Homo sapiens: one gene and its partner. The protein of the gene in region 1 interacts with the protein of each later gene in a biochemical or structural test. Each region holds a gene or a part of one and is shown in the gene's direction. Other genes may lie near its edges. The genes, in order: SARNP and DDX39A.

What was found.
Region 2: the proteins of SARNP (region 1) and DDX39A form a complex in vitro, tested with the Homo sapiens proteins (2 studies listed by BioGRID).

The regions. Positions count from the first base shown.
Region 1 is NC_000012.12:55,811,124-55,815,037, reverse strand, and holds part of SARNP (SAP domain-containing ribonucleoprotein), read left to right. Parts: intron 1-3,914. UniProt on the Homo sapiens protein: Binds both single-stranded and double-stranded DNA with higher affinity for the single-stranded form. Specifically binds to scaffold/matrix attachment region DNA. Also binds single-stranded RNA. Enhances RNA unwinding activity of DDX39A.
Region 2 is NC_000019.10:14,417,371-14,421,284, reverse strand, and holds the start of DDX39A (ATP-dependent RNA helicase DDX39A), read left to right. Parts: upstream 1-1,943; 5' UTR 1,944-2,015; intron 2,016-2,232; exon of another isoform or gene 2,233-2,356; intron 2,357-3,914. UniProt on the Homo sapiens protein: Helicase that plays an essential role in mRNA export and is involved in multiple steps in RNA metabolism including alternative splicing. Regulates nuclear mRNA export to the cytoplasm through association with ECD.

The DNA.
Region 1 (3,914 bases):
CATAAAGAGAATTTTGGGCTTTGGTATGGAACCTCAGGGGAAGGGAATACCTTTTGAAGCAGGAAGGAAACATAGTATGTATCTGAGTTGATATGTAATGTCATATCAACAGCAAATTTCTGAGGATTTTGTAGAAATGCAGTCATTCTTTTTTTTTTTTTTTTAAATTGAGATGGAGTCTCGCTCTGTCGCCCAGGTTGGAGTGCAGTGGCAAGATCTCGGCTCGCTGCAACCTCCGCCTTCCAGGTTCAAGCAATTCCCGTGCCTCAGCTTCCCGAGTAGCTGGGATTACAGGCACGTGCCACCATGCCTGGCTAATTTTTGTATTTTTAGTAGAGATGGGGTTTCACCATGTTATTGGTCCGGCTGGACTTGACTGACCTCAGGTGATCCTCTTGCCTTGGCCTCCCAAAGTGCTGGGATTATAGGCATGAGCCACCACTCCTGGCCCATACTAACACATTTGGAAAGAGAGATTGAACTGTGGATGAAAATGGCTTGAACTGTAACAGTATCAGATATCCAGTCAAACATTAGAAAAGGAACTATTGCAGAGGAGAGGAGAAAGTGATAGTAGTGTCAGAGTGTTGAGAATAGTGAGACATTTGTATTGAAAAGTGAAGTGAGGAAATATATTGGTAGTTGAAGATAGTTTGGAAAGGAAAATAGGTAAACTATAAAGGTAAATCAGAGTGATATTGAAAAGGGCTTTCTAAGTTATGTAAGGACTTCTGGCCTTTGTCATGTAAGAAGTAGGGCTGGGAGCCTTTGGAAGTTTGAAAGGAGGAGCTTGATGTGATCAGCTTGTATTCTCTTGGCGGATGGGATTTGTAGGGGGAGCGATTTCACCACTTAGATATTTATTATAGGAGTCATTCCCCTGCTTAAAACCTTTAAATTATATCCCTGCCCGTCTCTCCAGCATAGTTACTAACTCTTCAACTACTGTGGCCTTATTTTATTTAATTTCTTCAGAATGCTTCATCAATTGCCAACACTTAGCATTTGTTATGTGGCAAAGCACTGTTTGAAGCCATTTACATACACTAACTGATTTAATTCTCATAATAACCCTGTAAGGTAAATACCTGTATTATCCTCATTTGAAAATAAGAAAAACCATAGCTCAGAGAGAGTAACTGAGTAACTTGCCTTAGGTTGCACAGCTAAAATGTTGTATATTAAATCCAAGCAGGCTGGGTGCAGTGGCTCACGCTTGTAATCCCAGTACTTTGGGAGGCCGAGGCAGGCGGATCACCTGAGGTCGAGAGTTCGAGACCAGCCTGACCAACATGGAGAAACCCCGTCACTATTAAAAATACAAAATTAGCTGGGCGTGATGGCACATGCCTGTAATCCCAGCTACTCGGGGGGCTGAGGCAGGAGAATCACTTGAACCGCGTAGGTGGAGGTTGCGGTGAGCCGATATGGCACCATTGCACTCCAGCCTGGGCAACAAAAGTGAAACTCCGTCTCAAAAAAAAAAAAAAAAAAAAAATTCCAGGCAGCCTGTGTCCAAAATTCATGTTCTAATCATTGCACACTGCTTCTCCCTCTTACCTCAACCTAGAACCTTCACATATGCTGCAATTGGAGTTTTCTTTCGGCTGTAGTACTCCGGCTGCCCTTCCTCCCTAACACGTTTATCTAATTAATTACTACACCCCTTTCAGGTGTTTCACTCAAATATTATTTACCCAAGGAAGCTTTCTATGTTCTATCCACAAACATGGTCAGGCCACTTTTTATATAATTTCATAAGACCCTGTGTGTTCTTAAAAAATCAGCTAAACATGCCGGGCACGGTGGCTCATGCCTGTAATCCCAGCACTTTGGGAGGCCAAGGTGGGCAGATCACGAGGTCAGGAGTTTGAGACCAGCCTGACCAATATGGTGAAACCCCATCTCTACTAAAAATACCAAAAGTAGCTGGGCCTGGTGGCGCGCACTTGTAATCCCAGCTACTCGGGAGGCTGAGACAGGAGAATCACTTGAACCCAGGAGGCGGAGGTTGCAGGAGCCGAGATCGCGCCATTGCACTCCAGCCTGGGCAACAGAGTGAGACTCCGTCTCAAAAAAAAAAAATCAGCTAAACGCTATCTGATCATTGATTGGTTTGTTCTCTGCAAGATTGTAAGCTCGGAATGGGAAGGACTCTTATGTTTTGCTCATGATTATTTCCCTGTATCCAAGATAATACTTGATAATACAGTAGGTGCTCAATAACGATTTGTTGAGTGAATAAGCATGTCAAGACTTCAAAAGAATGGGAATGAATTTGAAAGACATTTAGGATGTAGTAGAATTTCAAGTATTTATAGATCAGTTAGATATGGGAAAAATGAAAGATGACTCCAGGGTTTGGGTAGTGATACCTTTAGTCTGGGTTGGGAGGAGGAGAAGCCAGTTTTGCACAGAAGAGGTAAGTTCATTTTGAGGCTTAGGTGTCTGTGGGACATCCACTTGGACATGTCAGGTAGTCAGTTGGAAATGTGGGTCTTTCACTCAAGAGCTGAAAGCTGATGATGAAGACTTGGGATTTATTCAGAAAATATGGAGCACCTGCCATGTCCCAGTTACTGTGGGTGCCAAAGATACAGCAGTGAACAACAGAGACAAAATCCTTGCTCTCATAGAGCTTGTATTTTACTGAGGGAAGGCAAAATAAAAAGTAAAATTTATGGTATGTCAAATAGTGATTGATAAGGCACATAGAGAAAAATAGGAGAAAGGAATAGGGAGTACAATGGGAAGGGTATTGTAATTTTAAATAGAGTGACTGGGGAAGTCATTAACAAGGAGATGTTTACAAAAAGAGTTGAAGGACGTGAAGGAATGAGCTATGTGCAAAGTGTTAGAGGAATAGCACAAGACCAGTTTGGCTTATCAGAGTGAGCAATGGTAATAAGGTAATGGTAGGGGAGGGCAAAGCTGCAGGGCCTTTTAGGTGATAGGATTCAGCCTTTTACCCTTAGTGAGATACGAAACCAATGGATGATGTTTGACTAGAGGAGTGACATGTTCTGACTTAAATTTTCAAAAGATCACTCTGTTACTTTGTTGAGAATAAACTATAGTGAGGCAAGGGCTGAAGAATTTTGACAATAATCTGTATGAAAGAAAGACTAGAGTAGTAGCATTTGCCGTGGTGAGAAGGGTTTGATTTTGGATATATTTTAAAGATAATGCTGATAGACTTTGCCGCTGATTGAAATCGGGAAGTGAATTAGCCTTTGATATATGTGGAATGACAAGACGCCCAAAGAAGGAATCTTAGTGAATATTTACAGGTTTGAGTGGAAGAAGAGCTAGCAAGGAGGCTGAGGAGGAGAGAGTGAAAGAAAGAAGTGCCAAGACTTTGGCAGTTAATATTGAGCATAAATCAGAGACACTTGAGCTGGCATATTGGTCTACTATTTACAAGCTGTGGTTTGTTTGTTTGTTTGTTTGTTTGTTTGTTTGTTTTTTGAGACAGTGTCTCGCTTTTTCTCCCAGGCTGGAGTGTAGTGGCACAATCAGGGGTCACTGCAGCTTCAGTCTTCTGGACTCAAGTGATCCACCTCAGCCCCTGCTCCCACCCAGTAGGTGGGACTACAGGGGCACACCACCACACCTGAACTGTGTATTAATTTTTTAATTTTCTGTAGAGACAGAGTCTACCCGTGTTGCCCAGGGCTGGCCTCAAACTCCTGGCTTTGAGCAATCCTCCCACCTCAGCCTCCCAAAGTGCTGGGATTACAGGCATGAGCCACCACACCTGGCCAAGCTGTGTGATATTTAAGCAAGTTATTGAATTTCTTTAAGCCTAATTGTAATACCAACCACTTAGGTTCCTTGTAAGGATTTTGAGTTCCCATCATATATGTTATAGGTGGTCTAAAACATCTCTGCCTTCAAAGAATTTACAAACTATA
Region 2 (3,914 bases), on another chromosome or scaffold:
ATTTTATTTTATTTTTTGTAGAGATGAGGTCTCACTATGTTGCCTAGGCTGGTCTTGAACTCCTGGCCTTAGGTGATCACTCTTGTTGCCCAGTCTGGAGTGCAATGGTGCGAACTCGGCTCACTGCAACCTCCACCTCCCAGGTTCAAGCGATTCTCCTGCCTCACCCTCCCGAGTAGCTGGGATTACAGGCATGCGCCACCACGCCCGGCTAATTTTGCATTTTTAGTACAGACGGGGTTTCTCCATGTTGTCAGGCTGGTCTCAAACTCCTGACCTCAAGTGAACCGCCCTCCTTGGTCTCCCAAAGTGCTGGGATTATAGGCAGGAGCCCTGGTGCCCGCTGATCCTTTCTTTACTTGGCATTTTCTTTTTCTTTTCTTTTCTTTTTTTTTTTTTGAGACGGAGTCTCGCTCTGTTGCCGAGGCTGGAGTGCAGTGGCGCGATCTCGGCTCACTGCAAGCTCCGCCTCCCGGGTTCACGCCATTCTCCTGCCTCAGCTTCCCGAGTAGCTGGGATTACAGGCGCCCGCCAACACGCCCGGCTAATTTTTCTATTTTTAGTAGAGACGGAGTTTCACCATGTTGGCCAGGATGGTCTCAAACTCCTGACCTCAGGTAATCCACCCACCTCGGCCTCCCAAAGTGCTGGGATTACAGGTGTCAGCCACCACGCTCGGCCTGCAAAACCCCACCTTTACCAAATTTTTAAAAATTAGCTGGGCATGATAGGTAACAAGAGTGACACCCTGAAGAAAGAAAGAAGAAAGTGGAGGGAAAGAGGGAGGAAGGATGATAGGAAAATAAATCTGCCAGGATCTAATAAAGCTTAGTGACCATGCCACCATGCCACTCCTAAGTATTTAAAAGAAATGAAAATTTATCTTCCCCAAAATACTCTTACAGTACAAGCTCTATTAACAGTGGCCAAAGACCGGAAACAATCAATTGGCCAAGAACAGGTGAGTGAAACTATATTGGCTACATTATAGTATAGCCACACAATGAAATACCACTCAGCAGTAAAAAATAACGAGCTGTTGATATCCCCACAACATGGACAACTCTCAAAAACACTTTGCTGCGGCCAGGCAGGGTGGCTCATGTAATCCCAGCACTTTGGGAGGCGGAGATGGGCAGATCACATGAGGCCAGGAGTTCGAGACCAGCCTGGCCAACATGGCGAAACCCCTCTCTACTAAAAATATGAAAATTAGCCAGGTGTGGTGGCGGGCGCCAGCAGTCCCAGCTACTCAGGAGGCTGAGGCAGGAGAATCGCTTGAACCCGAGAGGCGGAGGTTGTGGTGAGCAGAGATCGCGCCACTGCACTCCAGCCTAGGTGACAGAGCCAGACTCCGTCTCAAAAAAACAGCTTTGTTGAGCAAAAGTCAGACACAAAAGACAACCTATTGCATGCTTCTACTAACGTGAAAATCAAGGAGACAAAACTATCGTGGAGCGATAGAAATCCAAATACTGCAAAATGTTCTGTCCATTTGAGTCATTCCAAGCTCCCTATTCTTTTCAGAGCCTACACTGTGGAGGACCCCCAGGCCGCAGATTGATAGCAACTGGGACAGTTCTGGTTTCAGCGCCCAGCGCAGACGCCACTCTTCGAAAAGGTGGGGCACACGCCAAAACGCAATCATCCGGTCTTCAGTTATCAGTACTAAACATGGCGGCTCCCACCGAGCACCACACCCAGATCACGAGACCGCGCGCTGTCGGAGCCAGTCTGTCGGCTCACTGGGGCGCGCCTACTTTTAGATTGACCAATAAACGCGAGGCGTAAGGCACGCCCTCTTTCTTCCCGTCTCCGCCAATAATCTCCCGGTCCCTTCCACAGGACCCAATCACCGCTTCGGCCTCTCTTGAATGAAAAGGCAGCGGCCCAGTCAGCAGAGCAGCAGCCCGACGCAAGAGGCAGGAAGCGCAGCAACTCGTGTCTGAGCGCCCGGCGGAAAACCGAAGTTGGAAGTGTCTCTTAGCAGCGCGCGGAGAAGAACGGGGAGCCAGGTGAGCAGCGGATCCCGGGCGCGGGGCCGCGGTGTGGGGACGTCTGAACTGAGAGCGAGAGGACGAGGGGAGACGTTGGGATCTAAGGGGAGGGGGAGAAAGGGTCGCGAGACGGTGGGGGCGGGGCGGTTGGTGTGTCAGAGCGCTGTGTGTTGGCCGTTGGGCACCGGGGCGCATGCGCTAGGGGTGGGCCAGCCGTTGGCGCGCGGTGCTCGGGGCTCGGGGCCCGCTTCTCGGAGGGGCTGTCATGGCCTACGGCGCTCCGAGCCCCACTTGGAGTCTGTCAGTTCGTCCGAATAGACCCCGCGGCGGCCTGGGGCCATTTGGAGAGGGACGAGGGGGTGACGCCGGGGTCTGGGGCCTGGGTGGGAGAAGTTGGAGCTTTCAGTTGTCAGGGGTTTCTTTGGGTCCGAGGGACTTGATCCCTTTCCCAGTCTACCTTCTTCTTGGTCTACTTTTTACGGGATTCGGGATTCTGAGATTTAGAGCAAATAAGACTTTATTTTGGAAGGCCGGGCGCGGTGGCTCTTGTAATCTCAGTACTTTGGGAGAGACCAAGGAGGGCGGATCACTTGAGGTCAGGAGTTCGAGACCAGCCTGGCCAACATGGTGAAACCTCGTCTCTACTCAAAATACAAAAAAAAATCAGCCGAGCGTGGTGGCGAGCGCCTGTGGTCCCAGCTACTCGGGAGGCTGAGGCACGAGAATCGCTTGAACCCGGGAGGTGGAGGTTACAGTGAGCCGAGATCGCGACACTGCACTCCAGCCTGGGTGACAGAGCGAGATTCTGCCTCAAAAAAAACAGAATGAAAAAAAGATTTTCTTTTGGAAATAGGAGTCCCCAGGTGGGAATAAACTCCGGGGTGGAAAGCCTGCCTGGGGACACTTGAGGGTAACTGGGTACACGTGGCGTGTCTGGGTTGTGAGTTCCCCGCTGTCACCTTTCAAGTTCATGCGCTCCTGGCGCCTTAGCGGTCATGGCCACCCACTTTGGGCGGGGAAAACCCCGCCGGATCCTTTCCTGATCTAATCAGTTTTGAGCTTTAGATCCTGTCCAGCCCGGTTTCTCGAAAATTTTATCTTAGCAGATTCGGTTCACCCCAATTTATTTATCTCTCTCTCTCTTTTTTTTTTTTTTTTTTTTTTTTTGAGACAGAGCCTTGCTCTGTCGCCCAGGCTGGAGTGCAGTGACACTATCTCGGCTCACTGCAGCCTCCGTCTTCCGGGTTCAAGCAAGCACATCCGGCTAATTTTTGTATTTGTAGTAGAGACGGGGTTTCACCATGTTGCCCAGGCTTGTCTCTAATTCCCGACTTCAAGTGATCCGCCCGCTTCGCCTCCCAAAGTGCTGGGATTACAGGCATGAGCCACCACGCTGGGCCCCAATTTCTTTTTTTAAATTTATTTTTCTTGAGAAAGGGTCTCCCTCTGTCACCCAGGCTGGAATGCCATGGCGCCATCACTGGCAGCCTCGACCTCCTGGCTCAAGCGATCCTCCCGGCACAGCCTCCCAAGTAGCTGGGACTACAGGCCCATGCCACCACACCGGGCTAATTTTTTTCTTTTTTTAATTTCTACTTATTTATTTTTTAGCCTTTGCTACATAGAAGGTGCCCCTTGGGCTATGTGTTTTTTAAGTTTTTTTAAGTTTTAGGGTACATGTGCACAACGTGCAGGTTTGTTACATATGTATACATGTGCCATGTTGGTGTGCTGGACCCGTTAACTCGTCATTTGCATTAGGTATATCTCCTAATGCTGTCCCTCCCCCCTCCCCCCACCCACCCGGCTACTTTTTTAAAAATTGTTTTTGTATAGACGCGGTCTCGACTTATTGTCCAGGTTGGTCTCGAACTCCTGGGCTCAAGCCATCCTCCCACGCTGGCTTCTCAAAGTGCT